7 linked regions of the Homo sapiens genome follow. The protein of the gene in region 3 purifies or fractionates together with the protein of the main gene of each other region. This does not show direct contact. Each region holds a gene or a part of one and is shown on either strand. Other genes may lie near its edges. The genes, in order: BMP2K, AAK1, NECAP2, PHOSPHO1, AP2A2, GLOD4 and TES.

The links.
Region 1: the proteins of NECAP2 (region 3) and BMP2K purify together in Homo sapiens (affinity purification with mass spectrometry; one large-scale study listed by BioGRID and IntAct). This does not show direct contact.
Region 2: the proteins of NECAP2 (region 3) and AAK1 purify together in Homo sapiens (affinity purification with mass spectrometry; one large-scale study listed by BioGRID and IntAct). This does not show direct contact.
Region 4: the proteins of NECAP2 (region 3) and PHOSPHO1 purify together in Homo sapiens (affinity purification with mass spectrometry; one large-scale study listed by BioGRID and IntAct). This does not show direct contact.
Region 5: the proteins of NECAP2 (region 3) and AP2A2 purify together in Homo sapiens (affinity purification with mass spectrometry; 4 studies listed by BioGRID and IntAct, with this or other methods). This does not show direct contact.
Region 6: the proteins of NECAP2 (region 3) and GLOD4 purify together in Homo sapiens (affinity purification with mass spectrometry; one large-scale study listed by BioGRID and IntAct). This does not show direct contact.
Region 7: the proteins of NECAP2 (region 3) and TES purify together in Homo sapiens (affinity purification with mass spectrometry; 3 studies listed by BioGRID and IntAct, with this or other methods). This does not show direct contact.

What each region holds. Positions count from the first base shown.
Region 1 is NC_000004.12:78,869,930-78,874,582, forward strand, and holds part of BMP2K (BMP-2-inducible protein kinase), read left to right. Parts: intron 1-853; coding exon 854-1,131; intron 1,132-1,920; coding exon 1,921-2,019; intron 2,020-2,684; coding exon 2,685-2,869; intron 2,870-4,653. UniProt on the Homo sapiens protein: May be involved in osteoblast differentiation.
Region 2 is NC_000002.12:69,458,303-69,462,955, reverse strand, and holds part of AAK1 (AP2-associated protein kinase 1), read left to right. Parts: 3' UTR 1-1,244; coding exon of another isoform or gene 1,245-1,289; 3' UTR 1,290-4,653.
Region 3 is NC_000001.11:16,456,993-16,461,000, reverse strand, and holds the end of NECAP2 (adaptin ear-binding coat-associated protein 2), read right to left. Parts: intron 2,160-4,008; coding exon 2,111-2,159; coding exon of another isoform or gene 2,005-2,110; 3' UTR 923-2,004; downstream 1-922. UniProt on the Homo sapiens protein: Involved in endocytosis.
Region 4 is NC_000017.11:49,227,988-49,231,950, forward strand, and holds the start of PHOSPHO1 (phosphoethanolamine/phosphocholine phosphatase), read right to left. Parts: upstream 2,801-3,963; 5' UTR 2,481-2,800; intron 1-2,480. UniProt on the Homo sapiens protein: Phosphatase that has a high activity toward phosphoethanolamine (PEA) and phosphocholine (PCho). Involved in the generation of inorganic phosphate for bone mineralization.
Region 5 is NC_000011.10:1,004,717-1,009,304, reverse strand, and holds part of AP2A2 (AP-2 complex subunit alpha-2), read right to left. Parts: intron 2,778-4,588; coding exon 2,688-2,777; intron 1,294-2,687; coding exon 1,170-1,293; intron 206-1,169; coding exon 89-205; intron 1-88. UniProt on the Homo sapiens protein: Component of the adaptor protein complex 2 (AP-2). Adaptor protein complexes function in protein transport via transport vesicles in different membrane traffic pathways.
Region 6 is NC_000017.11:761,383-765,760, forward strand, and holds part of GLOD4 (glyoxalase domain-containing protein 4), read right to left. Parts: intron 2,458-4,378; coding exon of another isoform or gene 2,308-2,457; exon of another isoform or gene 2,180-2,307; intron 1-2,179.
Region 7 is NC_000007.14:116,212,825-116,217,477, forward strand, and holds part of TES (testin), read left to right. Parts: intron 1-4,653. UniProt on the Homo sapiens protein: Scaffold protein that may play a role in cell adhesion, cell spreading and in the reorganization of the actin cytoskeleton. Plays a role in the regulation of cell proliferation. May act as a tumor suppressor. Inhibits tumor cell growth.

The sequences.
Region 1 (4,653 bases), on a different chromosome or scaffold from region 3:
TTGATGAAAAAAGAACCCTTCTCTCCCTCCTTGCATTCTCTCCCCACTCTTTTTATCTTCTAGGATTGAACAGTTGCATTTGAATGTAGGGTAAGTTTATTAGAGGAGAATATAGAAATTATGGTATATTAGTATATTGCATTAAGTGTATATCTTACTTTTTAGTTAATTTTTAAAGTTTATTCATAGGATTTGCCTAGGGTATAATTTATGGAGCTTATAAATAAATATCCATTTAGGAGACAGTGTTAATAGATCCATTACAGTGAGCATTTATTAATCATCTTTTGTATAAAAGGTTTTTTGGGACTCTTAACAGATGAGTAAGTCATCATCTCTTCCCTCAGGGTCCCTGGTTAGGAAATAGCCATGTAAGTCATTAACATGTGCAAGACAGACTGAAATGTAATAAACTGAGTGGAAGTGCTAGATGAAGGAATAAGGAAGAGAGGTTTGAGCTAAACTTTAAAGAATAAGAATTTCACTAGGTGGAAAGTGGCATTCTAGACAGAGAATTATATTGGTACTAATACATACTCATGATAGTACATGATATTGTTGAGCAGTGTAGAACAAACTAACATGGATGTTGTGTTCATGGAGAGCCGAAGTATGAAACATGAAGTGTTTCTAAGATGTTGACTTGTTCAGAGTTGTAGACGACAAAATTAAGCTTCTTCGGTACTTACAATTAAAGTAAATCCCTATAAACTCTATGCATATGGAAGTTTTTGTGTTATAAATAAGGATATAAATGCCTTAGTTAAATTATTATTGAAATGAGCATGTTGAAATCCAGCTTTTTAATTGAAATCATTAGTATGTTAATGTAAGTGTTTGGACCTGTCTTTAGGGGCACTAAGACCTGGAAATGGCCCTGAAATTTTATTGGGTCAGGGACCTCCTCAGCAGCCGCCACAGCAGCATAGAGTACTCCAGCAACTACAGCAGGGAGATTGGAGATTACAGCAACTCCATTTACAGCATCGTCATCCTCACCAGCAGCAGCAGCAGCAGCAGCAGCAACAGCAACAGCAGCAGCAGCAACAGCAACAGCAGCAGCAGCAGCAGCAGCAGCAGCACCACCACCACCACCACCACCACCTACTTCAAGATGCTTATATGCAGCAGGTAATTTTTTTGTTTCTTTAGATATGGAAGTAGTGTGAAATTGATGCAGCAAATTGAATATCAGTGAATTCCTTTTTGTATCATGGGCACCTTGAACTCTAGATTTGAGTAAACACTTTCCCCAATTTTCTAATTATGAAAGAATACGTATTTAATTTGCAATCAGTGAAATACTTAAGAATACTGTAAAATAGGTTGCATTGTGGCCTTATGAAGAAAAGAATGTTCATCTGAAACATTTAGTATTCACAAATAAGCACTGCAGTTTATAATGAATATTATCTGAGGTTACGTTTTGAGTTCACAGACTAATAATGCTATTGTTGGAAAGGTGATATTAGGCTTTTCAGAAGTAACATTGTCTTAGATTTTTGTCACCCTCCTGGTTTTGGTTGATAGATCCAGAGTGGAGGGTAGTAAGTAGGTGGTACCATGGGATGCCCAGAAGACACCACTGAAGGGGAGATTTAGTGTAATGGGGCTTGGTTAGAAGTCACTCAGGTGTCTTTATCTTCTAGGAAAAGGTAGTAAATGTGTTTTGGTAGCTTTCTTCTAAACATCCTTAAATTGTGCTAAAAATGGTTTTAATTGAATCTAATTGTTGATAATTTTGAAACCAGTTCTGATAAGCATATTTATTAATAAATTATAGTAATTTAGAGTATAGCTATTTTGTATTGATGTTTGGACTACTGATTTCTCAAATCATTATGGTAAGATCAATACTTTAAAAAAGGGCTCTGACACAAAAAAGGCATAACATTTATTAATTTGATTTTCTCGTTGTAGTATCAACATGCAACACAGCAGCAACAGATGCTTCAACAACAATTTTTAATGCATTCGGTATATCAACCACAACCTTCTGCATCACAGTATCCTACAATGGTAACTTAAATAATTTCTAGAGATTTCTCTGAGTATACATTATGGTGTTGGAATTCACAGTATGAATCATATTATTCAGAATTTAGTAATTCAAAATCAAGTAAGTTAATTGACATGTATTTTATCAAAGCCAGTCATATATTCTCAAGCAGCTTTAAATTGCACTGAACTATGGCACCTGAATATGGCACATAGTAATTGACCGATAACGTACTTCTCTTATGTCATTATATAAGGGAAATGATGTCTTACCTATAGTCTTTCGTCACATGTCTCTTTCATTCAGCACATATCTATTGAGTAAAAAAATGAAACCCAAAGGGAGAGTATATTTTCTTCAGAGAATAATTTGACCTTTTTTTTTTTTTTTTTTTTTTTTTTAACAGCAACCACTATATTAGTGACTTTAAGCTACTCTTTTTCTTAAAATACTTAAAAGAGGATTTTTGATTCTGGCCAAGTGAGCCTACCTTTACAACTTTTTAAAAAGATTTATTTCATCTTGCTGTAGTTTTCTAGTAATAGAGCTGCTTCTGTAGATGATTGTTTTTTACGTTTCTGATTTTGTCACCAATGTGAAAGGAAGGAACATAGTAAATAGATGCAGTGCTGACAGTGCTTTAGGACTGGAGCATTGTTTTGTATAATATCATTTCTTTTTTCAGATGCCGCAGTATCAGCAGGCTTTCTTTCAACAGCAGATGCTAGCTCAACATCAGCCGTCTCAACAACAGGCATCACCTGAATATCTTACCTCCCCTCAAGAGTTCTCACCAGCCTTAGTTTCCTACACTTCATCACTTCCAGCTCAGGTTGGAACCATAATGGACTCCTCCTATAGTGCCAATAGGCAAGTATTTTTCCAGTGAAAGCAAAGGAAATTATTGTGGAAGTGGAAGTCATCGTTGAATGGTCGGTCATTAAGTTCTCTTAAATTAGTTTAGAATTTATCTTTCTGTAGAGCCACCCATTCTCTCTTCCTAGTCCTGTCTTCTGGTCCCTTGGCATCCCCATCCTTCCGTTTCCTCAGTTAATTCTGCTAACTGCTATTTGTAGGTAAGGTGTAGCAACATCTAACAGCATTTAGGGCTAAGGATATTATTGGCTTGTATGTAAAGGCATTTTTGGTAATGTAAGTATAAACAACACCCTAACAAGTGACTTCAGCAGTTAAAAAAAAATCCTTGTAGACTTTCTCTATTTACATGTTATTACCTTTGATTAATTTTACTGTTTACTCATAAAGGTTGTATAATTTAATTTAAATAGGTATAAACATTTTTACATATATGTATTTTAAGATGATATATAGTATACATACTGTTACCGTAACATAGTTGGTAATAGTATATTTTGGCTATTGAGACATATTGGTTAGTAGCGTTATAAATTAAATAACTTTGGTACAAAATTTCTTAAACTTATACAAAATGGCACGTGCTTTAGCATCTTGTAACTAAGAATCATCATCAATGCCTCCTAATGTTTTTAGATACCTAGGAGGTAGGAGCTGTTAGACTTCTGTTACATGAACACTGAAGTTCTCATACAATGCTGTTTAAGGATTTGAAACATTAGCTGAGAAAAGGTGTCTATAAGCTTTGGCTCAGAGTTGAGCAGGAGAAACAGCAGCATCAGTAGCATACTTGTACACTGCATCTCAAAAGAGAGCTAAAGTATGCAGTTTGCTATAGAATGCCTCCCAACCTCTGTGTGTGTGTGTGTGTGTGTGTGTGTGTGTGTGTGTGTGTGTGTGTATGCATGCATGCATGTGTGTGCACATGTGCAAGAGACAGATGGTGGGGCGGGTATGGTAGAGAGGGAGACAGAAACGAATGGATTTCTTGAACTACTTTTCTAAAGTAAGAATTGGGGTGGATGAATTAGGACAATTTTGTCTAAGGAGAGAGCAGAGTATAGGTCAAAGGCCAGTTTAAAGGTCCAGATCAGGCAGGGTGCGGTGGCTCATGCCTGTAATCCAAGCACTTTGGGTGACCAGGGCAGGCGGATCACGAGGTCAGGAGATCAAGACCATCCTAGCCAACATGGTGAAACCTCATCTCTACTAAAAATATAAAAATTATCTAGGTGTGGTGGTGCGCGCCTGTAATCCCAGCTACTTGGGAGGCTGAGGCAGGAGAATGGCTTGAACTTGGGAGGCAGAGATTGCAGCGAGCTGAGATCATGCCACTGCACTCCAGCCTGGCAACAGAGCGAGACTCCATCTCACACACACACACACACACACACACAAAAAGTTCAGATCAGTATTTGCCGAACTCTTTGTCATTTATCTACTCTAGTTAAAATTTTTTGCTTTATTCACATAGTGCTTTTTTCTTTAATAAATTAGTAACATTATTGTGTATAATAAAATTAAAACATATTATACATTTTAAACAAATAAGATCCACTAAAATATAAAGTATGAAATGTAAATAGTAATCTAATAAATTTGCTAAGTCCCCTAGTGATAAGAATGGAATAATTTTCCTCATTAAAAATCAGATATTCTGCTTGATAATTGCTTAAAGATACTGATGAGGCTATTGTACTAATTAGATGATTGCTTTTTTCCACTTTTGATGCTAACTAGCATAAAAAATGTCAAATCTAGTTTATTTAGTTGGAAAA
Region 2 (4,653 bases), on a different chromosome or scaffold from region 3:
CAACTGTGCCAGAAACCTATGTCCTTCACTTTGGTGGATGCTAAATGTTATTCTAAGAATATGCTTTTTCCCAATTCTCCTTTCTGATTTTTATGTATTAGTGGATGCAAAATTGTCTTTCTAGTTGAATGAATAATTTCGGCTAATGCACGTGGAACTTTGCACCCCAGATTCTTCCCATGGTCATTATCAAGTGAAGCCCTCAAAAACATGAGCGAAGAGCCTAGAAATACTCAGGGAGATTTCTCACCCCAACTCAGAAATTTTTTTTTTTTTTTTCAAGACGGCGTCTTGCTCTGTCGCTCAGGCGGGAGTGCAGTGGTGTGATCTCGGCTCACTGCAACCTCCATTTTCCGAGTTCAAGCGATTCTGCCTCAGCCTCCCGAGTAGCTGGGATTATAGGCACACACCACCGCGCCTGGCTAATTTTTGTATTCTTAGTAGAGATGGGGTTTCACCATGTTGGCCAGGTTGGTCTTGAACTCTTGACCTTGTGATCCACCCACCTTGGCTTCCCAAAGTGCTAGGATTACAGGCGTGAGCCACCGCACCTGGCCCAGAAATTCTTTTTTTTTTTTTAAATTATTATTATACTTTAAGTTTTAGGGTACATGTGCACAATGTGCAGGTTAGTTACATATGTATACATGTGCCATGCTCGTGTGCTGCACCCACTAACTCGTCATTTAGCATTAGGTATATCTCCTAATGCTATCCCGCCCCCCTCCCCCCACCCCACAACAGTCCCCAGAGTGTGATGTTCCCCTTACTGTGTCCATGTGTTCTCTTTGTTCAATTCCCACCTATGAGTGAGAACATGCGGTGTTTGGTTCAGAAATTCTTAAAGTAAGAGATCATTCTAATTCCCCTTTCCAAATATTCAGGATTATCTCTGTAACAGCCCAGCAAAATGTTTTTCCTTTGGTTATTTGATAATTCCCTTCTAATCAAGTGACTATTTTAATTCTCAAGGTGCAAATCAGGATAAAATCATGGTGATTTTACTACATAGTTGAATACTTCGTCAAGTATGAGCTTGTATCCTTTTTAAATTTTTCACTGGAGGCCAGGCGCGGTGGCTCACGCTTGTAATCCCAGCACTTTGGGAGGCCGAGGTGGGTGGATCACTTGAGGGTAGGAGTTTGAGACCAGCCTGGCCAACATGGTGAAACCCTGTCTCTACCAAAAATACAAAAAGTAGCTGGGCGTGATGGCACGCACCTGTAGTCCCAGTTACTAGGGAGGCTGAGGCAGAATTGCTTGACCCAGGGAGGCAGACTTTGCAGTGAGCCAAGATTGTGTCATTGCACTCCAGCCTGGGCGAGAAGAGCAAAACTCCGCCTCAAAAAAAAAAAAAAAATTGTCACTGGAGACATGATGGGTGGAGACTCTACATACCTTCTTTGAATACAGAAACGGATGCAAACACATGCAAATTACTTTTTTTTTTTTTTTTGGTGATGCATGAAAAAACTTTGACTTGTGGATTACATTAATTATTAGTAACAGTTAGATTCTGCCGACTTGTATTACAGTAGGGTCTTATTTCCTTAAAGAGAAAAAAAAATACAGTCATGCCCCACTTAATGATGAGGGAGACATTCAGAGAAATGCATCCTTAGGTGATTTTGTCATTGTGTGAACATCACAGAGTGTACTTAACACAAACCTAGATGGCACGGCCTACTACCTACCTAGGCTATATGGTCCAGCCTGTTGCTCCTGGGCTACAAACCTGTACAGCATGTTACTGTACTGAATACTGTAGGCAGTTGTAACACAATGGTAAGTATTTCTGTATCCAAACATTTTAGACATAGAAAAGGTACAGTAAAAATATGGTATAATCTTATGGGACCATCATGGTATATGTGGTCCATCATTGATGGAATCGTTTTTATGCAGCACATGACTGTATATAATCAACAAACAACTCTACTTTCTTGTTTTCGTTTGTTGTGTTTTTGCTTTACACATTTGATAGGGAACATAGAAGTTGTGACCTTTCATTTCAGTGGAAAGCATTGAGCCAGAATATATTTATTCCTAAACCATCGAGCCACACATGCATTGATGAACCCTGAAAGAATCCACAGTAATTGACTAACAGGCAGTACTGAATGAAAGATGTCATATGTGGTGAAAAATATTTAATATATCAGTTTCTTGGGCTCACATACAGCCCTTTAGTTCCAAGTGCTTGGTTAGATTAGAAAATGGGATGAACACAATTTGATGCTGAAGCAGCTGCTGAGCAGCACCCAGGGAGTCTAGGTCATACGCCCTATATTGTTTTCGGCCCACTTATTGTTGAGTTGAAAAGTCTCATATTTGTAGACTAGAGTGTATGTGTTTAGAGGCTCATGTTGTATCTGAGTTTTCTCTGGCAACTAAGATCTCTTTCTAAACGTTCTAGAAAGATACTGGTATCTTACTGGCCCATTATTTAGTAAGTTTTAGAATACATGTACATCAGTGTTTTCAACTGCTTGGTGGACATTTCACTGATGCATAATCAAAGTAGCAGATTATAATCATCAGAGTGATCTGACAAGGAAATTCTGTATTTGCTTCCATAAAGAAAAATAATCAAAACATATATCAGATATAATATATATGCAGTATATCACATAGGAAATTTTATTGTAGGAAATTAGAGAAGGATGCTACTCAATTCATTCTCTAGCAGGAAGAATACAGCTTAAAAATCACTTGGGTCCCTTTAATAAAGAAAAGTGTGATTCTGTGTTGTGTGTTTGGAACTGAAATTGGAGAACACGTGCCAGTCGACTGTGAAATGGTTGCTGGATAAAACCACAGATGTGGTTTTATCCGAGAAATGTGGGACTGAAATTATTTTGATGAGAGGTACATAAGAGAGCTGCAGAAAAGACTGTAGCTTCTGAGGAGGCAGGAGTACCTTGTTAATATCCAAACCACCCCTGAGTTCTAATGTTCCAACTCCACCTAAACGAGGAATTGGAAACTTTAAATGGAATTATCTAATTTAAATTCTTAGTTTTTTCTTTGTCTTTCTCAGCTGATACTTGTAGTTTTGTTTTGTTTTTTAACCACCAAGAACACTTGCAAGTTTGTTACTGAAAACATCACTAAAGGAAAAGAAGAGTTTCAAAATGCTTGAAAAGTAGTATGTGGTTGGGAATTGTTTTTGTTCAAGTCCCTGGAAGTCCTCTTGGCTTAGCTCCCTTGTTCCTGTTCCCACTTCATTTCCTTACTTAACATTCCCCTATTTTGAGCATGTCAATAAGTGCATGATGAATGGCACAGTTGAATGATCATGTTAACTTTAATTGCTTCCTTTGTTGCTGTAAACAGTTTCTTGTTAAGTTTCAGCCAAGTCTGTGACAATCTCACCAAATAAGAATGAAATGGGCGGGGTGTGGTGGCTCACACTTGGAATCCCAGCACTCTGGGAGGCTGTGTTGGGCCGATCGCTTGAGCTCATGAGTTCAAGACCAACCTGGGCAACATGGCAAAACCTTGTCTCTACAAAAAATACAAAAATTAGCCAGGCATGGTGGTGCACACCTGTAGTCCCAGCTACTTGGGAGGCTTAGGTGGGAGGATGGCTTGAGCACGGGAGGCAGAGGTTGCACTAAGCCAAGATCGTGTCACTGCACTCCAGCCCAGGCAATAGAGCCAGACCCTGTCTCAAAAAAACAAAACAAACAAAACATGAATGAATGAAATGGCTCACCTTCCCTATTATGAACTAGAAGAAAGGATGAAGGAAGGTTGGCAGGACCCCAGCCTTACTCTGTAGTGACAACCCAGAGGTACTTTTCCCGGAATGCAGGGTCAAGTTTATGTGTGAAGGGACTCTAGAATAGCTGGTAAAAATGGCTACATGGTAACCATTCTTGACTTAGTCCAGTATTCCCATAATTTGTAATTCCATAAATTTATTCTCAGCTGTCCCCCAGCCATTTCTAATAGAAGGATGTGTACCCCAGTTTTGACAATGTTCTTGAAATCAAGTTAGTGTTACCTGCATTGCATTATAATGGAACTATATGTACATGTTAAAGGGATCCGTTTGATTCCTTTCGGCAAGGAATTGCAAAAATAGTTTTTACCAATACCAGTTAAAATAGGATAGGTTAGACTTTGGGGGCAGGGTGAGACAGTGCAGCCTTTTCACTCTGAAATGGCAAATCAGCTGTACTCTTTGAGTCTACCAGAGATTCCTATTTGAGTGTGAATGGGGTGTGTGTGTGTGTGTGTGTGCTCATTCATCTTCATGCTTTCTTCCATGGTGTTAATTCAAGCTCTCCTAATAAAGGTATCCAAAGAGTACTGAGAAGTGACCATAGGTATTTGGCATGAGTAAATGTAGTTCCTTTTGCCAAAAAAACTCTCAAAAGTTACAACTGGAGTTCTTCGCGATAAAAGGTTGGGGAAATCAGCCATGGCTTTAGCCTTGTTCCCAAGTACACATCTTCTTATCCACAAGGATGAAACTCTGTAGGGCTCACCCTGAGGGCTCATGTGTGGCATTGAGAGGGTAGCAGTGACCAGAACACCACAAGGCCCACAAGATGTTTTGAATGAGGGAACATTTAATGTCATTTGTTAGGAGATAGAAACCAAATAATAAAGGACAAGGACCACGCTCATTCCGTGGAGAAGAGG
Region 3 (4,008 bases):
TCCCACCTCAGCCTCGCAAGTAGTTAGGATTCCAAGCATGCACCACCACCACACTAATTTTTTTTTTTTTTTTTTTTTTTAAGAAATGGGGTCTAACAGCCGGGTGCCGTGGCTCACGCCTATAATCCCAGCACTTTGGGAGGCCAAGGCGGGCAGATAACTTGAGGTCAGGAGTTTGAGACCAGCCTGGCCAGCATGGTGAAACCCCATCTCTACTGAAAAAATACAAAAATTAGCTCGGTGTGGTAGGTGCCTGTAATCTCAGCTACTGGAAAGGTTGAGGTAGGAGAATCACTTTAACCTGGGAGGCGGAGGTTGTAGTGACCAAGATTGCTCCACTGCACTCCAGCCAGGGCAACAGACTGAGACTGTGTCTCAAAAAAAAGGAAAGAAATGCATCTTACTATGTTGCCCAGGCTGGTCCCAAACTCCCAGCCTCAAATGATCCTCCCGTCTTGGCCTCTCAAAGTGCTGGGATTACAGGCGTGAGCCACTGCACCCGGCCTCTTAATTTTACTTTTGACCTCTGGGTATCTGCACCCCTTTACTACTTAGGGAGATGCTCTGCCGGTAGGTTTGGTGGAAGACGGAAAGCAAGGGGCCAGGCTCTCTAGAACGGCCTGTATCATGAGACGCCACAAGAGAATTAAGCCCCACACAAAGTGATTCAAGCAACTACTTTCACATCAACCAAAGGATGATGAAAAGACTGTACTATCCTAGAGAACACAGGAGAGAAGGTACCGATTGCCTTAGACAACAAGGTTGCATTTCCTCACTTTGGCCAGCCTCACACCCCAGCCCTGAACTTTCAATCTGGACACTTGGTCAGTGGTGAGAGAAGTGGCCGTGAGTCTAGCTGTGGCACCCTGAAGAGTTTAACAGCCACGCGGCCAGAAACACATTCATCTTTCACATACAATGACAGAAGTAAAAATATTTATTTTATCTTAAAAATCTGGTCCCGCAAAAAGGCCAACACTTTTTTCAGTTCACGGTCTTGACCTTTCAAAGAAGAAATCTTTCAACTGAGAGGTGAGTTAATAAAAGGAATGTCAGAGGTGCTTTCAGATTTCTTATAAACCAGTAAACCAAGCAACCCTGGACTTCTAGTTTACTGAGCTCCTTCTTCTAGCCATTCACAGTTCCTGAAGGAGAAAAGAAGTTGTTTGCAGATAAGGCACTTTAGAAACCACCAAAGAGAAAACCCAAGTCTGCCAGGAGCTGCACTGTGAACATGTGAGCCGAGAGGGCCACCAGCAGACAGAGTGCCAACTCCCACAGCTCCATGACAACAGCATCCACCTTCCTGCCCCAACACTGTTCCGTCTGGCTTCCAGCACCCGCCTTGGCTCTGTGTTGCCTACCTGGCCTAGAATACATGGAAACCAGACAACTGGCCAGAGATAAACACTGCTGCCTGAAGCTCAGGGCAGCTGCCCACAGTGAGGAATCCCTTCAGAGGCCCCAGCTGGGGCACGCCGAGGGAGCAGTTCCTTTTGCAAAGATGAGTTAGTGCGGATCAGCACATTAGCAAAGCAAAATATTTAAACATTTTTAAAAGCTGCTAATCCTTCCAATTTCCCTCCTGATTGTAGCTCAAGCTGCAGCCTCTAAACCTGCTAAAAATCAGGAAGAAACCCCTCCTCTGGAGGGCAGATGGACTGAAGTGGCTACAGCCAGTGTGGGTACGGAAAGCCTCCCGCTGAACTGTGATCATGTGACACCTGCAGACCCTGGGAAGGGCTGATCTGAATCCTGGCAGCAAACTCAACCTCTTCTTTTGCTTGGGGGGCTTGTGTTTAATACAGGTCATTGCGATGGAAGAAGTCTCAGAGTCTCTCTCACATCAAGAGGACAGATGGGGACAGGGATCCTGGAGCTTTTCTTCTCCTGTGTTCTGGTTGCATACTTGAATCCCAGGAAACAGTGTGACACGGTGCCAATTTACTGCCAAACATGCCCGGTTTGTCAACAGAGCCAGACAAGGAGGAGAGGAGAGATTCATGCCCCAAACACAGGCCAGCTGAGGAGGGCTTCGTCCTCCTTCCTTTGGCCCAGATGAGGGAGCGCCTTCCCAGAAGTCACATGAGGAAAAACCGTGCTCAGGTCAGAACTGGACCCAGCCTGTGCCTGGCTGGGTCTGGCTGGAAGTTGATCTGTAAAGAGAAGACAGGGAAGGGTGGGGGAGTTCAGATCTTTGAAAATACAAAGCAGATAAAAGTTGGTTTCTCTCTGGACAGAAAAAGCTCTAAGAAGCCAGTTCCTAAATGTTCTAGAGCAGCAGTCAGCAAACTCTGGCACAGAGACCAAATCTGGCCCTCGATGGTTTTTTTTTTTTAAATAGTTAATGTAACTGTATTTACCAAAGTTTTTTGTTTGTGGTTTTGTTTTTTGTTTTGTTTTTTTTTTGAGACAGGGTCTCACTGTCGCCCAGGCTGGAATGCAGTGGCACACTCAAGGCCAACTATAGCCTCAACCTCTTGAGCTCAAGCGATCCTCCTACCTCAGCCTCCCTAGTAGCTGGAACTACATGACCGGTTAATTTTTGTATTTCTTTTAGTAGACACAGGGTTTTGCCATGTTGCCCAGGCTGGTCTCGAACTCCTGGCCTCAAGTGATCTGCCTGCTTTGGCCTCCCAAAGTGCTGGGATTACAGGCGTGAGCCAACATGCCTGGCCGAAGAGTCTTAACCCCTTTCCCATGTAGAAAAAATATAGCTCACTGCCAGCCCTCATTTAATTTTACATAAACATGCTCTTTGAGGCTGAAGCAAATCTGACTGATTTTCAACGTGAAAATAAAATATAAAAACTGTTCTTGGAGTTATTTCAGAATCATCTGAATAATCAGAACTATTTTGGAAAAATCAGACTCCTCAAATGAATCTTAGGCTAAAAACTGTTCAAGAACGATGTTAACATCACATGTAAGAATGCTGCGTTTTCTAGGATTTGACTTTTTCAGTAATCAATAATTACTATATTTTGGGCCAGGCATGGTAGTTCACGCCTGTAATCCCAGCACTCTGGGAGGCTGAGGTAGGCGGACTGCTGGATTCCAGGAGTTCCAGACCAGCCTGGGCAACATAGCAAAACCCCGCCTCTACTAAAAATACAAAAAATTAGCCGGGTGTGGTGGCAATTGCCTGTAGTCCCAGCTACTCAGGAGGCTAAGGGATAATCACCTGAGCCTGGAAGGTCAAGGATGCAGTGAGCCGACATCACGCCACTGCACTCCAGCCTAGGCAACCAGAGTGAAACCTTGTCTCAAAAAAAAAAAAAAAAAAAAAACAGAATTACTATATTTTGTAAATGGAAATACCACTATTAAAAACAGAATGCTATAAATAGAATGTCTTTTGTTCCAAAGCTGATATACTAGAGCGATGCAAAAATAATATAAAAGCAATACATTTTGTGGCAAAGTTATCTCAGGGTCAACGCTGCAGTCTGAAGTGCCACTGGCAAGTTTTCTCAGGGCAAACAGGAAAAGGGTTACAGTCCTCATTTCACGCCTCTGTTTTTTTTGTTTGTTTATTTGTTTTTTGAGATGGAGTCTTGCTCTTGTGACCCAGGCTGGACTAGAGTGGCATGATGTCAGCTGACTGCAATCTCCCGGGTTCAAGCAATTCTCGTGCCTCAGCCTCCCAAGTAGCTGGGATTACAGGCACCACCCCACCACGCCCAACTAATTTTTGTGTATTTAGTAGAGATGGGGTTTGACCATGTTGGCCAGGCTGGTCTTGAACTCCTGACCTCAGGTGATCCGCCTGCCTGGGAATCCCAAAGTGCTGGGATTACAGGCATGAGCCACCGCGCCCAGCCCATGCCTCTATTTTTGTAAATAAAATTTTACTGGCACACAGCCATGCTGATTTATTTACATATTGTCTGTGGCTGCTTTTGTGCAACAAGAGCAGAACTGAGTAGCTAGAACGAAGACCACACGGCCTGAATAGTCTAAACTATTTGCTATCTAGTCCTTTACAGAAAATGTGGCTGGGCA
Region 4 (3,963 bases), on a different chromosome or scaffold from region 3:
AGCTGTCCCCAGTCCCTATCTGGAGGGACTTCCAACCTTCCAGATTCCCAGCTGATATCACATGTCCAACCTCAGCCAGGCGATTTATAAGAGAAAGGTCAGGGATGCCACTCCCCTTGTAAAAGCAAACATGCAGCATCTGGAGAAGCAAGGGGTAGATACAAAGATTCCAAGGGGTCACCAACAGCTACCCAGAGACCAGCTTTCATCCTATAGAGAAGGGTCTCATTACTTTGCCCTTCCTTCCTTCCTGTCTCTCTCCTTCCTTCCTTCCTTCCTTCCTTCCTTCCTTCCTTCCTTCCTTCCTTCCTCCTTCCTTCCTTCCTTCCTTCCTTCCTTTTTTCTATTCTATTGATCATTAATTATGGTCAAAACTTCTCATTTTTTCAGCCAGGCAGGGTGGCTTAAGCCTGTAATCCCAACACTTTGGGAGGCGAGGCAGGCAGATCACTTAAGTCTAGGAGTTTGAGACCAGACTGGGTGACATGGCAAAACCCTGTCTCTTTAAAAACAAAAATTAAGGCCGGGCGTGGTGGCTCATGCCTGTAATCCCAGCACTTTGGGAGGCCGAGGCAGGCGAATCACGAGGTCAGAAGATCGAGACCATCCTGGCTAACATGGTGAAACCCTGTCTCTACTAAAAATACAAAAAATTAGCTGGGTGTGGTGGCGGGCGCCTGTAGTCCCAGCTACTCGGGAGGCTGAGGCAGGAGAATGGCGTGAACCCGGGAGGCGGAACTTGCAGTGAGCCGAGATTGCGCCATTGCATTCCAGCCTGGGCGACAGCGAGACTCCGTCTCAAAAAAAAAAAAAAAAAAAAAAATTAGCTGGGTATGGTAGCTTGTGCCCATAGTCCCAGCTACTTGGGAGGCTGAGGCACGAGGATCACTTAAACCCAGGAGACAGAGGTTGCAGTGAGCTGTAATGGTACCACTGCACTCCAGCCTGGGTGACAGAGGGAGTAACCCCATCCCCAACACACACACACACACACACACACACACAAAACTCCTCATTTCTCATCATAAAATACAGTTACATTTTTCTGCTAATAATAGTATCTAGGGGATTCAGTTAAACACTTATTGTTTGGTGAGTTGCCCTTGTTTCTTTCAGTCTCCAAGGCAGAAAGTCAGGCATCTTGGGTTTCTTCCCCAGAAAACTGAGAAGGCCATGCTGTGACACCTCGTCCCCACCCCACAGGAGTCAGAGGAACCCCTTCCCCAGTTGGAATTTGGCTCCTGTGATGCTCCAAAAGGTCTCTCACCTCTGACACCTTTGTTCTGAGTCATCAAATCCTTTTGTGGTCACCAAACAGAGTCCCTCAGAGTAGGGGGCAGGATCTGAGCTTCTCTCACAGGCCAGAGCAGGGAGAAGGGCTTCTGGGGGGTTGCAGGGAGTCCATATTCTAGTCCCACCTAAAAGCAGTGCCTGCCTCCTTAATTCTGCACCGGGTCACAGATCCCTGCCTGCTTCTCCCGCCTTTCACACAAATGCTCTTAGATTAAATCTGTGGGAAGGGGGTGGGAGGGAAACAGGCCCCTCTCTGATACAGGCCCTAAGTTTCAAATTCCCCTCTTACTGGGCAGATGGAGTTCCTAGAAAAGTTTTGGGATAGTTTTCCAAAGGAAATGTGCAGAATGAGGATGGGGAGGCGAGGACTCCAGAAAGACCACAGTAACAAGCCCTCTCTGTCCAAAAACAAGTCTCCTTGTATCAATCACTAGAAATCAGATCCAACAACTAAGCTAGAATTCCCTCCCTTTCCCAGACAGTGCTCCCAAACATGACCATCTTCCTTGCTCACCACGCCCGAGCAGCAGATAGGAAAAACAGAGGCCCAGAGAGGTCAGGCTAACATCCTAGGGGTCACACAGCATCGGAACCGCGATTAGAACTCAGGAGTCTCTGGCGCCTCTTGGGAGAATTGCAGCTGGAGCTCCCCCCTTGGCCCTGGAGACTCCAGTGGGCAGGGAGCTTGCGGTCCTGACCAGCTGGCGGTGGTGGCCCTGCGCCCTGGTGCCAGTGAGGCGTCTGGGTCTAGCAGTCACCTCTGGGCACTCCCTGGGTGGGAGGACAAGCTGGGAGGGGATCCTAGGGGCAGGGGCAGGGGCAGGGAGGTGGCAGCTGCCGGTAGGGTTGGGGGAGAGATATTTTTAGAGGTGACTAGGAAGCCAGCACTCTGGCGCACCCCCGGCTGGCGGGCGCTGGGCTCCAATGCGGGCGGGGGGTGCGCGGCTCGGGGAGGGGTATTGTGGGTGGCAGGGAGCAAGGGGACACCAATTCCTTGGCTTTGTCAGAGTCGGGGACGGAGGGATACCCCAGCACTATGTTCCTGGGTAGGAGAGAGAAGGGGACTCACTCCTGAGCTCCAGAACTCCCCCAGTGCCACGCGCGTGAAGGAGCGCCTTCAAACTCCACAGCCCCCACCCCGCGCCGGGACCCCAGCCCTCCCCTATCTCCCGGAGCCCAGGACTCACGTGGGGGCGGCGGCAGCAGAGGTCTGTCCCGGCTGAGTTTGGAGTGTAAGAAGTGGGGAAGGGGGCTAGCTGAGGTATTGGGGCGCAGGATGGAGCAAGGGGTGCTTACGGGAATTGGAGGGGACGCGGTGTCTTATCCACCCCCGGATTTCTGGGCTCCGGCTCACGAGTCCCTCCAGTCCCGAGGGACTGAGGATGATGTGCGTCTGAGCCGTCCCCTCCACTTGCCCCTCATCCCCCCCGGGCAGCCGCCGCGTCCCCTTTAAATGCCCGGGAGCCGGAGCCGGAGCCGGAGCCGCGGCCGGCGCTGCGGCTGCTGCAGCAGCGGAGCCCACCGCAGTCCCCAACGTCACAAGCGACTGTCCAATCGCAGCGGTGCCGGCGCACATCAAAGGGGCGGGCCGCCCGAGGCCACGCCTCCCTCCTGCCCCGGAGGCTCCGGGAGCGCCAGCTAAGGTGGGATTAGGCTCTCGGGGAAAGGGTAGCAGGGTGGGGATGGAGCGCTGCCCTTCCGAGGAACGTGGGTGGGGGCACCCTCACTAGAGCGGCTGTGGACATACGCTAAATCCCTGCCTACACACCCAAAATTGCTAGGGCTGTGGACTTTCTCATCCGCCGCCTCCAGGGCTTCGGTTCTTGAGATTTGCAGAAGTGCACCTCCACCTCCTGCCCATTCCGCTGTCGCGTCCTAAACCCAGTGGGAGGCACGGGATGACCCAGCCCTCGGGACCCTTTTCCCCAGATTATAGGTTACTGAGGATTGCGGGGGTTGGCGGGAGGAATGACTCCCTACCCCCACCCCCGCCCGTAAAGTTGGTGGAGCGGGTGGTGACAGACAGTTTGCCCCTTTTGCAGATGGCCCTATAAATAAAAAACGCACTTTCTCCCCTGCTTCCTAAGAGTGTGTTTCTCCCCCACCCTAATCTCCTCCTTTTGGCCCTCAAAGCCTGCTAGTGAAGAGAAGGAGAGAAGATAGTGTTTCGAGAGGAAAGACGTGAAACTAGTATTTACTGAGAACATACTATGAACCGGGCATTCGAGCTAGGTCGCTGCGTTTATGGCTGAATGTTCACAACACTCGAGAAATTATTTGCCTAGCCGTTCAAACCCGGACACACCTGACTCCATTGGGTCACAAAGGGGTGTGTAGGTGGGGAGAATGCACTTTGGGAGGCCAAGGTGGGAGGATCGCTTGAGCCCCGGAGTTCGAGACCAGCCTGGACAACATAGGGAGACCCCATCTCTACAAAAAATTAAGAAATTAGCTAGGCATTGTGGCATGTACCTGTAGTCCCAGCTCTACTCGGGAGGCTGAGGTGGGAGGATAGCTTGAGCCTGGGAGGTGAAGGCTGCAGTAAACTGTGATCACACCACCACACTCTAGCCTAGGCGAAAGAGTGAGACCCTGTCTCAAAACAAAACAAAATAAAACAACAACAAAAAAGAGTGAGCTTGTCTGGGGTCACCCAGCTGGTAGGGCTGG
Region 5 (4,588 bases), on a different chromosome or scaffold from region 3:
TGTTCTCAGCCAGGCCAGAGACCAAAACCCACCTTTTCAAATGAGCCCCGTCCCCACCCCTGACCCCTACAGGAAACAGGTTTCTCACTTGCTCAACTGCTTCCAACGTTGAAAGAAATCCTGAGAAGCCATTTCTGTCGGCTGGAAGAATTTGTTGAGAGTGATGGGCAGCTGCACAGACACGTTCTGGAAGGTGCCCCCATACCTGCCAGCAGCAGCAGCAGCAGAAAGAGACAGTCAGCTACTCCTCTGAGAGCCCCAGGGACCGGGAAAGAGCCTGGAGTGAGAAGCGTCCCGATCTACTGCCACCCACCAGAGCGGGTCGGGGGGCCGAGCCTTCAGTCCCCACGGATCGTGTGTGGCTCAGTGTCCAGTGTCACCCACAGACAGGAGGACAGGCCAGGGCCGCATACTCAGGCAGGACGTCCCTGTGCCTCACTTCTCCCCATTCATCTGTTTCCCAGAACTCCAAGTCTGTGCAAATAGTGTGATGTTTTTTCTTTAAAAAGGCAAAGGCATTTGCACAAAGAATGAAACAAAAACTTGCATGTCTATGTCCCCGAATTCTACAGTATACAATCTTAAGTTCTCTGTCTTTTTAATGTTAGAAAGTGTGCTTTTCTCAACATTCCTAACCTTGCAGACACCCAGCAGGGGACGGGCTGACTGTATCCACGCTATTTGTAGTCACTGAAAAGTGAGAGTAATGAACAGTCGCAACAGGAAAATCCTATGCTTTTAAAAAATAAGCAAAGTGGTACGATCTGAGCTCAACTGAGCAAAAAACGCGCCCCCCAGGCCAGGGGGCCGAAGGAAACCAGCTGCCTGCACCCCACAGCTGTCGTCTGGTACCAAGCCGGGCAGGTGGCGCGGGGGCCCTGGCTGTCTGCCACCCCATGAGGTGGGCCCCATGGTGCCCAGAAAGATCCTAGCAAGGCCCCATGTGGGAGCTGCCACCTGCCGTCCCGGAGCCCAGGGCTCCGCCTCCCCTTGTTTCCTGCGCTCTGCAGAGCCGGGGGCAGCAATAGCTCAGGCCGCATCCATGCACCGTGAGCACCCGCACGCCCCGGGTCCCCTCAGGAAGGACACGGAGGCACAGTCATGGAGCCCAGGCACACAGCTCAGGCGCCCACACACCCCTTGGCCCGGGGCGCACAGGCGGCTCTTACCTGAACTGAATGTTGAGGACTGGCGCCTCCGTGAAGTCGGACACGCACTCTATGTTGACCACCTGCTGCACCTGCGCGCCCCCCTCCACGGTCGGGTCCACGGGCTTGGTCTGCAGGTTCAGGTGTGCGTGCGTTAAGGAATCCAGCTGAGCAAGTCCCAGTGGCAGAAGCGGAAACGGGCCGGGCTAGAGCCCCAGCAGGACCCGTGGAGGCGAGCACACTCACCACACTCTAGGACCACCAGCTACGGGTCGAGGGCAGCCACACCACCCGGCCCTGCCCTTCCACCCAGACAATCCTCAAAACACTGTCTGCTTCTCACGCTTCCAGAATGGCTCCTCCATTTTAAAAAGTCACTTAGATTATATACTACTTGTCTGTTTTCACTCTGAGCCTCGGCTCTGGGTCTTACACACACAATTTTTGTCACCGTTAGCAGAAACTGGTGCTTAGTAGGGCAGGAAAACTTTAAGAATCCCAGGAATAGCAGGCTCCTGAAACAGCGAGACACAGAAAAGAGCCTGCCCTGCTGGGACCAGGGTTGTTTTCATGCTGGAAAACAAGGGTTTGCCTACAGCCTCTCCTGAAGAAACAGTGACAGCAGCAAAGCTGGGTCCAGGAGGCAGCGGGGTGCAGGCCTCTCCTTCCCTCTGGGTCGTGTGCCGCCGGCCACTCAGCTGCTGGGCTCGCTGCCGCCTCGAGCCAAGTGGACCCCGAGGGAGAGACCCCTAAAGAAGGGCGCAGTAGGAGTCAGAGCTTCCACTCCAGATTCCAAACAAAGTCTTTAATACAGGTGCTCCTGCATGTGTATTTTTAATGACTGTTTTGAAACAGCTTGAACAGTCTGCATTAAAACATGTTCATGTTAAAATGAACAGACCAGCCAGTGGCAAGGAGGATGTTGCTTCACTCAGGTCGCTGACCATAAATCCCCAGGTGTCACCATCTCTGGTCAAGCTGGGGTCTTCACGCTAACTCTATTTGGCGGGCCTATCCTTAGAGGTAGAGACGTTAGCGTCTCCCTGTTTTAGCTGGGGAAGTTCTAGGAACGCTTCTGGCATTACGAAGGGAAAATCTTCAGTCTAAAAGCTCTGCCAGAAGCACACACAAGCTCGGCTGGGGTGCGCACCGCGCTCCAGTCCCCACTGGCGCCTCCCACACTCTGCAAGCAGCAGCTCTGTGAGGCTTCGGAGAGGAGGGGTTTAAAGATCACGTCACAGGAGAGTAAGAGCAGGTGAAAAGGAAAGGGACTCACACTGGCCAGATGGAAGGGGAGGAGGCATGTACACGGTATTTTTAGGTGCATGATCAAAAGCTGGCTCTCCAATATGGAAGACTGCCTGTTTTCCTTCTCCTGCCCAGCACCATAGGCAGATTACGACTGCCTGATTTTCATATAGCATCTGGAATTATCTCGCTATTTTAACAAAATAAGAAAACCAAAAAACTTCCTCAAAAGCCTCCTCTAAGCCCCACATTATGCTGTCTGCGGGCATGGGGCAATGAAGCCAAGGATATTAGGCTGAAGGTCGTCTGAACAGATTAGTGTTGGGGTAAAGTTTAGGAACTGCGTGGAGGTCTTATTACCATAAAAGATAAACATCCGACCTAGAAGGAACAAAAACAATTTTTTCACACACACCATTTCACACTTACCCTGAATATTTACCCTGAAAAACAAGAGCCCCCCACAATCTTCAGCTGAATTTAAGTTCACTGTTGTGATGTATGACTGTTGTTAAAATTAAGAACAAATTTTTTCCAGTTTTAGAACGAGCACACCAGTGCTGGTAACACGGGCCGGGTATCTCCTCCAGTCAGAGGTAACTTCCGCCCTCCAGCACCCTCCTCCCTCGGCCCCTCCTGCGCACCCACACGGGATGGGTGAGATCACACGCATATGCACGGGGAAGGACCCACAGAACGCCCCGTCTGCAGGCTGGGCTACAGCTGGAGGGGCCTGCCAAGCATCTTTTCCAGGGACGCCACAATCACACAGGCCTCTGCCGGCCCCGCCCCATGACTGCAACATGCAAACACACGCACCGGCCCCGGCTGCCTCCTGTCAGGGGACCCGGCTGGGCACGCGTCCAGCACAGCATCGGTGTTGCACACTAGCCCTCACTGCAGCGGCTCAGCCACGGCACAGGTGCACATTTAGGATGTGTCGCTGTTTTTATTTATATCACAGTAAAAAATCTTTGTGAACATCTGTATACCCCTTGAATTCAGAAAGGAAATCTCAAATATTTTGAAAACAGTAAACAGTTTGGCATCACTCCTCCCACAATTTAAAAACCCAAAACCAACACCTCGTGAAGCTATCACGGCCCAGAGCTTAAAAACTTAAACCAGGACTAAAGGCACCACCTGTTTTCAATGCAGCGTTTCCCACAGGAATCACTCTGACAACCCTCACTTTTCTAACAGACCCCTGGCGGGCAGAGGACTAATTCTCTTTTTTCACATTCTTTCTGTGTTTTTCACAGATGAGAGAGAGAGCAGTCCTGAGGAGGCTCAAGGCAGGCGCTGAGAGGAGGCAGGTCCGCAGCCAGGGCCCCTGCAGCCACAGGGTTCCGTGCACAGCATTTTTTTACACTCAAAGGCTTTTTTATGTCTTTCTCCTAAATTGTGGTAAAATACACTAACATTCACCTTCCTAGCCATATTTAGGTGCACACAAGGGCACAGGAAGTGCATCCACACTGTGCAGCTGCTGCCACCACCACCATCTCCAGAACGTTCTCATCTTCCCAAACGGAACTCTGTCCCCATTAAACACCAATTCCCCATCCCCCTGGCCTAGGCCCTGGCATCCCCCAGCTACGTTCTGTCTCTACGAAGTCACTGCTCTAGGGACCGCATGAGTGGAGCCACACAGGATTTGTCCAGGTGTCTGGCCCGTGTCACTGAGCACCATGTCCTCAAGGTGCATGTGTGCTGCTTTATGCATCAGAATTTCATTCCTTTCTGCCGTTTGATGGCTGAATAATATTCCACTGCGTCGACAGACCACATTTCGTTTAATTAGGCATCCACCCATGAACATCTGGGCTGTTTCTAACTTTCGGTGATTGTGAATAGTGCTGCCATTGGACATGGGTGGACAGGTACCTCTTTAAGACCCAGCTTTCAATTCTCTGGGGTCTGTACCCAGACGTGGAACTGCTGGGTCACAGAGTAATTCCATCTTCTTTTGTGTTCTGAGGAACTTCCCACAGTGCCCGCACTACTGTACATTCCCACCAGCGGCGTACAAGGCTCCAACGTCACCACGCCCTGCAGACACTCTTTTTCCTTTTTGGTTATTTATGCATACATAAATAATGATGTATGCATTATTTATGAATGAATGAATGAACGACAGGGTCTCGCTCTGTTGCCCAGGCTGCAGTGCAGTGGCAAGATCTCAGCTCACT
Region 6 (4,378 bases), on a different chromosome or scaffold from region 3:
GAATTTAAAAATCAAAGATATGCTTAAAAAAACCACAAGTCACAAATATGCACGTTTCTGTCTTTTAGGAGCCATAAAAAGTGGGAGGAAAGAACAACTAAATTATTTGGAGAACCTAAGAAAGCTTTTTTTCTTTTTTGAAATGGAGTTTTGCTCTTGTCGCCCAGGCTGGAGTGCAACGGCGCCATCTCGGCTCACTGCAACCTCTGCCTTCTGGGTTCAAGTGATTCTCCTGCCTCAGCCTCCCAAGTAGCTGGGATTACAGGCGTACACCACCGTGCCTGGCTAATTTTTTGTGTTTAGTAGAGACAGGGTTTCACCATGTTGGTCAGGCTGGTCTGGGACTCCTGACCTCAGGTGAGCCACCCGCCTTGGTCCCCCAAGGTGCTGGGATTACAGGGGTGAGCCATCGCGCCCGGCTGAACCTAAGAAAGCTTTTAAGTGTTGAAGGACAAGTAAAAGAGGAGAGGGAAAAAACCCTTTGGGTTGGATGCAAGAAGAAGTATCTTAGCTAATATAACCAGTTCAGTGGGACTGGAATAGGGATGAGTTAGGGGACTTAGGGAGGCAGGTGGGAAAGAAGGTCAGAGGGTAGAGAATGTCCAAAAATGTCACATGCTCTGTCAGAGAGTTTGAAATTTATCTCAGAGGCAAGAGAGAGCTATCGGATTAAACGGTTTTAAAAATTACTGGCTGTTTGCTTTGGGACAGACCGTAAGTTGACAATGAGGCCTTTCAAAGGGAAAGCTGATAGGCAGAAGACATTTCAGAGGTAGAACTCACAGCTCTTGGTGACTAATAGCTAAAATAATTTAAGGATGAGGAGAAATAATGGTCAAAAGTGACTGTCTGTAAATCTAAAACGACTATTAAATGTTAAAAAACAAAACACAACAAAATAACACCAAAACTGGCTCTGAGGATTCCAGCGTGAACAACTGGGATCACAGACACGCTGTACTGTCCAGGGAGGGAGCAGGGCGCAGAGGAAGAAAAAGGACTAACTGTAAAGCCTGAAAGGCTTCCATCCAGGCCCCGGCCTGCACCTACTCAGTGCGTGATCTTCAGGGATGAAGGGGAATAATTTCATCACCATCCAGGCCCCGGCCGGCACCTACTCAGTGCGTGATCTTCAGGGATGAAGGGGAATAATTTCATCACCATCCAGGCCCCGGCCGGCACCTACTCAGTGCGTGATCTTCAGGGATGAAGGGGAATAATTATTTCATCACCATCCAGGCCCCTGCCTGCACCTACTCAGTGTGTGATCTTCAGGGATGAAGGGGAATAATTTCATCACCATCCAGGCCCCGGCCTGCACCTACTCAGTGCGTGATCTTCAGGGATGAAGGGGAATAATTTCATCACCATCCAGGCCCCTGCCTGCCACTTACTCAGTGTATGGTATTCAAGGGTGAGGGCCAATGACTTACTCATTCTTAGCCTCGGTTTCCTCATTTGCAAAGGCTGATGCTATCAACCTTGCAGGTTATATTAAGAATCAGAGAATGTGGCTGGGCGCGGTGGCTCACGCCTGTAATCCCAACACTTTGGGAGGCCGAGGCAGGCGGATCACGAGGTCAGGAGATCGAGACCATCCTGGCTAACACGGTGAAACCCCGTCTCTACTAAAAATACAAAAAAATTAGCCAGGTGTGGTGGTGGGCGCCTGTAGTCCCAGCTACTCGGGAGGCTGAGGCTGAGGCAGGAGAATGGTGTGAACCCGGGAGGCGGAGCTTGCCGTGAGCCGAGATCACGCCACTGCACTCCAGCCTGGGCGACAGAGCGAGACTCCGTCTAAAAAAAAAAAAAAAAAATCAGAGAATGTATATGAAGCACTTAAGGTTGGATGCGGTGGCTCACATCTGTAATCCCAGCACTTTGGGAGGCTGAGGCAGGTGGATCACCTGAGGTCAAGAGTTCGAGACCAGCCTAGCCAAAATGGTGAAACCCTGTCTCTACTAAAAATACAAAAATTAGCTGGACATGGTGGCGGGTGCCTGTAATCCCAGCTACTCGGGAATCCCAGCTACTCTCCTGAGGCAGGAGAATCACTTGAACCTGGGAGGCGGAGGCTGCAGTGAGCTGAGATCACACCACTGCACTCTAGCCTGGGCAACAGAGTGAGGCTCCATCTCAAAAAATAAATAAATAAATAAAAATAAAGCACTTAAGAACGTACCGATATAGTAGCATTTATTTCTTTTTATTTTTATTTATTTACATATTTTTAGTATAAATAGAGAGTTCATCTGGGCCAAGCTTGAAGACTGCAGCCCGGGAACATAGATTCAGGTTTCCCAGAATCTACACTCCCAAGTAGCCTTTATGTAATATTACTGGAAGAAGAATGGATTTGAGGTAAGATAAGTTATGGACACGCTGAGTCTGATATGTGGTAGGTTTCCTAGGTGAAGAGGTTCTCAGGATATAACATCGGTCTGGACAGAGAAAGTGCTACATGTAAGAGAAAAAGTTCATAAGCTGGACTTCACCAAAATAAAAAATTCCTCATCTTCAAAAACTCAATTAATGGCTGGGAAAAATACTTGAATTTGCAAGTGACGAAGGAATGATGAAAAACTACAGTACAGAGTCAAGGTAAGAGTCACGTAAGGCTCTGTCGTACTCTCTTCGGTTGTGCATATTTGGAATTTTCATCATGAAATATTAAAAATTATTAAAGAATGGACAAAAGACTTGAACATAAAATTCACAAAAATAAGTAAATGGCTAATAAGCACATGAGAAGGTGCTCAATATCATTAGTCATCAGGGAAATAAAAATTAAACCTCTGTGGGGCCGAGCTGGAAGGATCACTGGAGGCCAGCCTGGGCAACACAGTGAGAATCTGTCTCTACAAACATAAAAAACATCAGCTGGGCATAGTGCTGCAGCCCTAGCTATGTGGTGGCTGAGGCAGAAGGATCGCTTGATTGCACCAATGAAACCATTTCGCATGTGCTAGAATAGCTAAAAAACCCACAAAAAGCAAAATAAGTGTTGGTGAGAATGTAGACCTACTGGACCTCTCGTGGACAAACGATGGTCCGATCACTTTCGATGACTGTTTGACACTTTCTTATACAGTAAAAGCAGTTCTACTCCTAGGTATTTACTCAAGAGAAATGAAACATCTATCTACAAGAAGATTTACACTAGAATGTTCATGGCAGTCTTCCTTATAATAGATTAAAAAATCTAGAAATAAACCAAATGTCCACCATTATAAGAATGAATGAGCAAATTGTTATATTCATAAAATTGAGTATCAGTCAGCAATTAAAAAAAAAAGAGCTGTGATATGCAATTACATGGTGGAATCTCAAAACCATGTTGAGTAGGCCGGGCGCGGTGGCTCACACCTGTAATCCCAGCCCTTTGGGAGGCCAAGGTGGGTGGATCACAAGGTCAGGAGATCGAGACCATCCTGGCTAACACGGTGAAACCCGTCTCTACTAAAAATACAAAAAATTAGCCGGGCGAGGTGGCAGGTGCCTGTAGTCCCAGCTACTCGGTAGGCTGAGGCAGGAGAATGGCGTGAACCCGGGAGGCGGAGCTTGCAGTGAGCAGAGATTGTACCACTGCACTCCAGCCTGGGTGACAGAGCGAGACTCCGTCTCAAAAAAAAACAAAAAACAAAAAACAAAAAAAGCCATGGTGAGTAAAAGCAGCCAGGCACAAAAGGAAAGAAAATACTGAATGACTCCATTTGTATGAAGTCCAAGAACGAACTCACCTACAGTGACAGAAGTCAGAATAGCAGCTGATCTGGGAGATGAAGGTGCCAACTCACTGGAGATGGGCATGAGGGAACTTCCTGGGAAAATGGTCTGTATTCTGAGTAGTGGTTGTATGAGTAAACACAACCGTCAAAACACATTTAAATTCTACCTAAATTATGCCTCATCAACAACAACCACCTGTCTGAGCTGAGGAAGGAGTTAAAAACTGGAAGTGAGGAGGCTGGAGCCAGGATGATGGTTACGTTCAGGGCAGAGGTAAGGAGAGGTCGCAGGTAAGCTCTCATCAGAGTGGAGGAAGAATGCAGAATGGGAAAAACAGCAAAGTAGGGCTATGGGTATAAAAACACTTTGGGATGAGACACAGAAAGAGGTGCCCGTGTCTGAGGAGAAACTGTCAGGAAGATGAAAATGGTAGGATGGCCAGGCGCAGTGGCTCACGCCTATAATCCCAGCCCTTTGGGAGGCCGAGGAGGGTGGATCACCTGAGGTCAGGAGTTCAAGAGACAGGGTTTCACCGTGTTAGCCAGGATGGTCTCGATCTCCTGACCTTGTGATCCGCCCGCCTCGGCCTCCCAAAGGGCTGGGGTTACAGGTGTGAGCCACCGCACCCGGCCTACTCAACCAGCCTGAC
Region 7 (4,653 bases), on a different chromosome or scaffold from region 3:
AATCTTAACTTTCTCTAATCCTCCTCTTCTCCGCCTCTACCACCCCAGAAAGAATTCCATAAATTAAAGGTTTTAGAGAGAATCCCATGATATAACAAATCCCTGTTTCACTACGTTGTCTTCACTGATGATTCTTAGAATCCTCAACTGGTAAATTGGAAGCTATTAAAAAACCGCAGAGATGTCCCGTATGACTCCAATTTGTGAGTCCCTTAATAGGCTTGATAGTCTAACAAAAAGTTTCCCAGTACAAAATTTGGAAATCTCAGGAATGTATTTCACAATCTTAGCCATACTCTCAAAAAGAAATTTATGTTCCTTTTAGCAATTGTTTTCTAACACGTCCAAAGAAGGAAATATTACAAGACTATCTGATTTACCAGCAGAGTCCTCACCCTATTTTGGTACCTAGTTTTCAAGTCTCCTTTCTTTTTGACTCAGTTATTCAAGAAAATTTATAGTTTGAATGTACCTTGAGAAAAGGAAGATTAAAAGTTGGAACAAAGATACAACCATTTAAATACAACTAATATGACTTCTGTTTTAAGATGTATGACATTTTTTCCTTCTAAAACTTTTACATTGTTGATTTCATGAGGAATTTCTTCCAGACAGATGAAAAGCATCATTGTTCCACATTAACATTTCATGTAAAAAGAATTAAGGAGGACTGTCTTTATTAAACAGTGATTGAGATAGATGATACTATTATAAAATTCTTGGTTTGTAAAAGGAAAGCTCGTCCACATCAGTTGTACAAATTGGGATTAATTACCAGTTAAAACCCACCATCACAAAGACAAGGGGTTTTTATAATTAGATTTTGCTATATTTTGTTTTGTTTGAAGAAAGCGAGCTGTTGCTAGGATGTGGGAGCTAGTTTGGTTATACAAAGTTTTTGTTTTAATAATACTTTAGAACAGAATTGATTCTATGTCCTTGCCCTGTCTTCTGAGTTACACATCTAGACCTCTTTCTTATTTTTTAAGTCTCATCTTAATTGGCTTTGTGTCAGTATGGTCCATGTCTGCTTGGGAAAAACAGTGGACTTTGAGAAGCAGAAACAGTCTCATTTTGCGGTGAATGGTAAATCATGGCCAACAGCCAGCTGTTTTCCTCTTTCCTTTCTGTGTTACTCTCCCATGAGAAATATTTTTTTTCAATTAAGAACATACCAACAGAGAAAGAGAACTACAATAATTTCCCTTTTACTGCCTGGAATTGCTGCAGGGCTTTTTCATTTTACCGTGTTCATTTTTTCTCTCCTCTAACCCCTTTATTTTGATTAATCCTAATATTTTGCATACTTTTCTTAAGACTCTTATTTCTTTAATTTTACTTTTTAAAAATATGATGCATTTTAAAGATTACATGTTACTAAAAATCCCCTTTCTCTGTATCCAAACTTGTTTTCAAAACCTTTGTCATTAGCCAAAAAAGCATAGTGAAACCAAATGAATACTATTGGAAAAAGGACTAAACTACAAAGATTATTTCCATTGGAAATTAGAATGAGTTATTTGCCTTAGGTAGCCCCTGGTTGAAGTGGAAAAGGCAATATATGGTGACCTGGATGCTCAAATCTACAATTGCATTCCAGGCTTGAAGCCATTCTTGCTGCAAGAACCATTGGCAAGACTAAGGGTAAAGGTAGGGCAAGGCACATCCAGGGCTTTGCTTTAGAGGTGTTCTGCCTCTCTGAACAAGTGCAGAAGAAAATGAGTGGTCCTCGGCCAGGCTTTTATAAAACTATTCTAACCCATGGTGTGATTCATTACATTGGTAGAATATGAAAAGTCCCTTTCTCTTAATTGTCCTGAATATTGGTTGGAGAAAAAAACTATAGTAGGTTTTCTATTGATTCTGTTCCTTTATGCTGTCCTATGAAGTAGAAATAGGAATTTATATTGCTACTGGCTATTACCTATGTCCCATCAACTCACCCTATGACTTTGCTTGTGCATGCCCATACTCCATCTACAGTTCTAAATTTTTTCCATCCTTCAAGGACCAACCCTTCACACTGCACACTCCTCTAGGAAATCTTTCTCCATGCTGCCACCTAGATGAAAAATATTTTCTCCTTTTCTCCTGAATTCCCAAAACATGTTATTGGTAACACTTAGGACACTAATCACTCTCCACCTCTGGATTATACTTATCTGTTGTATGTTTCACCTTCTTACCTTGCTTACAAACTTCTTGAGAGATGAATCCATATCCTGTTACACTTACGTGGTTATTTTGTTTGCTGTTCAAAGCAACCTTAGGAAGTAGGCCTTAGCCCCATTTTCAGGATGAAGAAACTAAAAGTTTAGATAGCGTAATCTGAAACCTTACTATAGAGAACTTTACTATGAACTTGAACCATAATTTGAAGAATCCATGCTGCTTCCATCATGCCAACTAGGCCGAGTCTTATATTCTTCATCTTGCTCACTAAATATATGTGGAATGATAACTGTTATAAAAAGAGAAATAAAATAAGGTACATTTCAACACTTTCACTCATTTTTTAAAGGAATTATATTTGAGGAAGTGGTTTATATTCCAATAAAATCACCATCCTGCTAGTTTTCTATATTTTGTTTCTACTTTGTCCATGTTGTATGTATTCCCTTTAGTGTAAGTTGCCATTGACATTCTTTGGGCAGAGGCAAAGTATACGAAAAGTAAAAGTATTGTGAAAAGGAGTTTCTGGGAAACTTCTACAGTCAAAGAAATAGCATAAACTCCAATAATATTCTGTACCTTATCTTCTAAGATTCTCCCAACTTCCTGACTTTTGGTGTGAGCCAATGGTAATGCTGTCTCCTAACTATGTAAAATGGCCCTAGGTAACAGTGACCCTGTATTTGGCTCTTTGTTTTGTTAAGTTTAACCAATGGCATCTGGAACTATAAAGGGATGCTCGTGGTCTTTTCTCGTGTTGAGCTCTGCAGTTGAGAGAAAGCCTTACACATAGCATGAGTAGGCTAAACCTCTTTTCCCTTGTAGCAAAGTGTTCAGAGTGCCTCTGGAGTGGCAGACCAGACAGCTAAGAATGGAGCAGCTAAAAAGAAACAAAAAACAAACAAAAAACCTCTTAATATTGGGAGAACTATTTTTTTGTTTTAATTTCCCATTCTTCATGCAAAAACATTTCTTATGAAGCTGAGAAGCTGTGGGAAACACCAAAATGATCAGATATTTCATGAGGCTCTCATGGAGCTCCAGAGTGACATCCAGCATTGTTAGCATGCGATCAACATCATAGACCATCAGTGTGCAACACGAGTTACCAAGAGGGGCTTTCTTAGTGGAAAGAGAGTGATAAATTGGTAACATGGAAGCTACTTCCTGTGTTCTTTTTCTGAGAACTAGAAGAAGGAATACAAGTTGGCCCCATGCTAATGTGTATATACCTTTTTTACATACCAATCACTAGTGTGTTTAGAAATTAGGAAAGGTCAGTAAGTCTCCAGTATATATAAACATCTATAGTGTATGGAAAGGTCTTCCATAGTGTATCCGTTTTCTCACTTCCATTTATCAGTATAATATATTTAAAATTGCCCTAAGCTGAGAGTTGGTAGATCCGAGTCCACTATTTTTTGTGATATTAACCACTTTGGCTATCAATTTCTATTTATATAAAAATCAGTAGGGGAACCAGATGATTTCTGAGGTTTCTCCAAGTCCTGTGACTCTTTGATCGTGGGAAATAATATCAGTAGTCTACCATGTGTAATGTTCCACAGTGCTTTAAAATCACACAAATGAAGAACATATATGTATAAATATATACATAAAGGAGATGGCATAGTTTAAATGTTAGTGAATTCCATGAAGAACCTATAGATTGAACCAAATAATTTTTTTCCACAAATCTTAGCTATTTTCAACTTGTTTGTACTTAATTTTCATAATATTTGTGGAGGTATTTGAAGATATTAGGTTAAGTTTAATTAATTTAAATCTGTAGTATAAGGCTCTGAAGGCTGTAATAGTGTGGGTCCCATAAGTCTAGGAGTGATGTATTACTTACCTTGGTATTTAATTATGGGAAAATGAAAAATAATGGAACATTTATTTTCTTTAAAAGTTATCTCTCTCAAAATAAGGCTGTTAAAATAATTTTAAAAGATTAAAAAAAAACTATATGAGTGCTTTTTTACGTACCATGCACTGTTCTAGACTCTGGGGTTATAGTTGTGAACAAGAATGACACTGAACTTAAGCTTGTATCATAGAATTATGCTATTGCAAGTGTTGATAGAGCAATGTAAATATTGAAAGTAAGCACAACTGGAATTATACCCGTCAGTGAACTCTTGATAGGTTAGCAGTACGCTATGTTTCTAACACAGACAGTGAGCAATTTTGATGGTGATCCCTGGGCTTGATTCTTGGTTTTGCAAACTTTGTAATTAGGGATTCTTATTTCATTTGTCTTAAGTAATAGCAAATGTAAAAGATGGGAAAATGAGAAAGCAGCTTTTATGTATTAGAATGTGAAAAAGATTATGAATGCATAAAGCTATACAAATAGACTTACACCTATAATATACACAAACTATAAGTCTTCTCCCTGCCTACAAATGCCTTACAAAAGAGTCATTCTTGGATTTCCTGTTTGCAGTCATAGCTAATTTTTGTTTGGTAACTACTGCC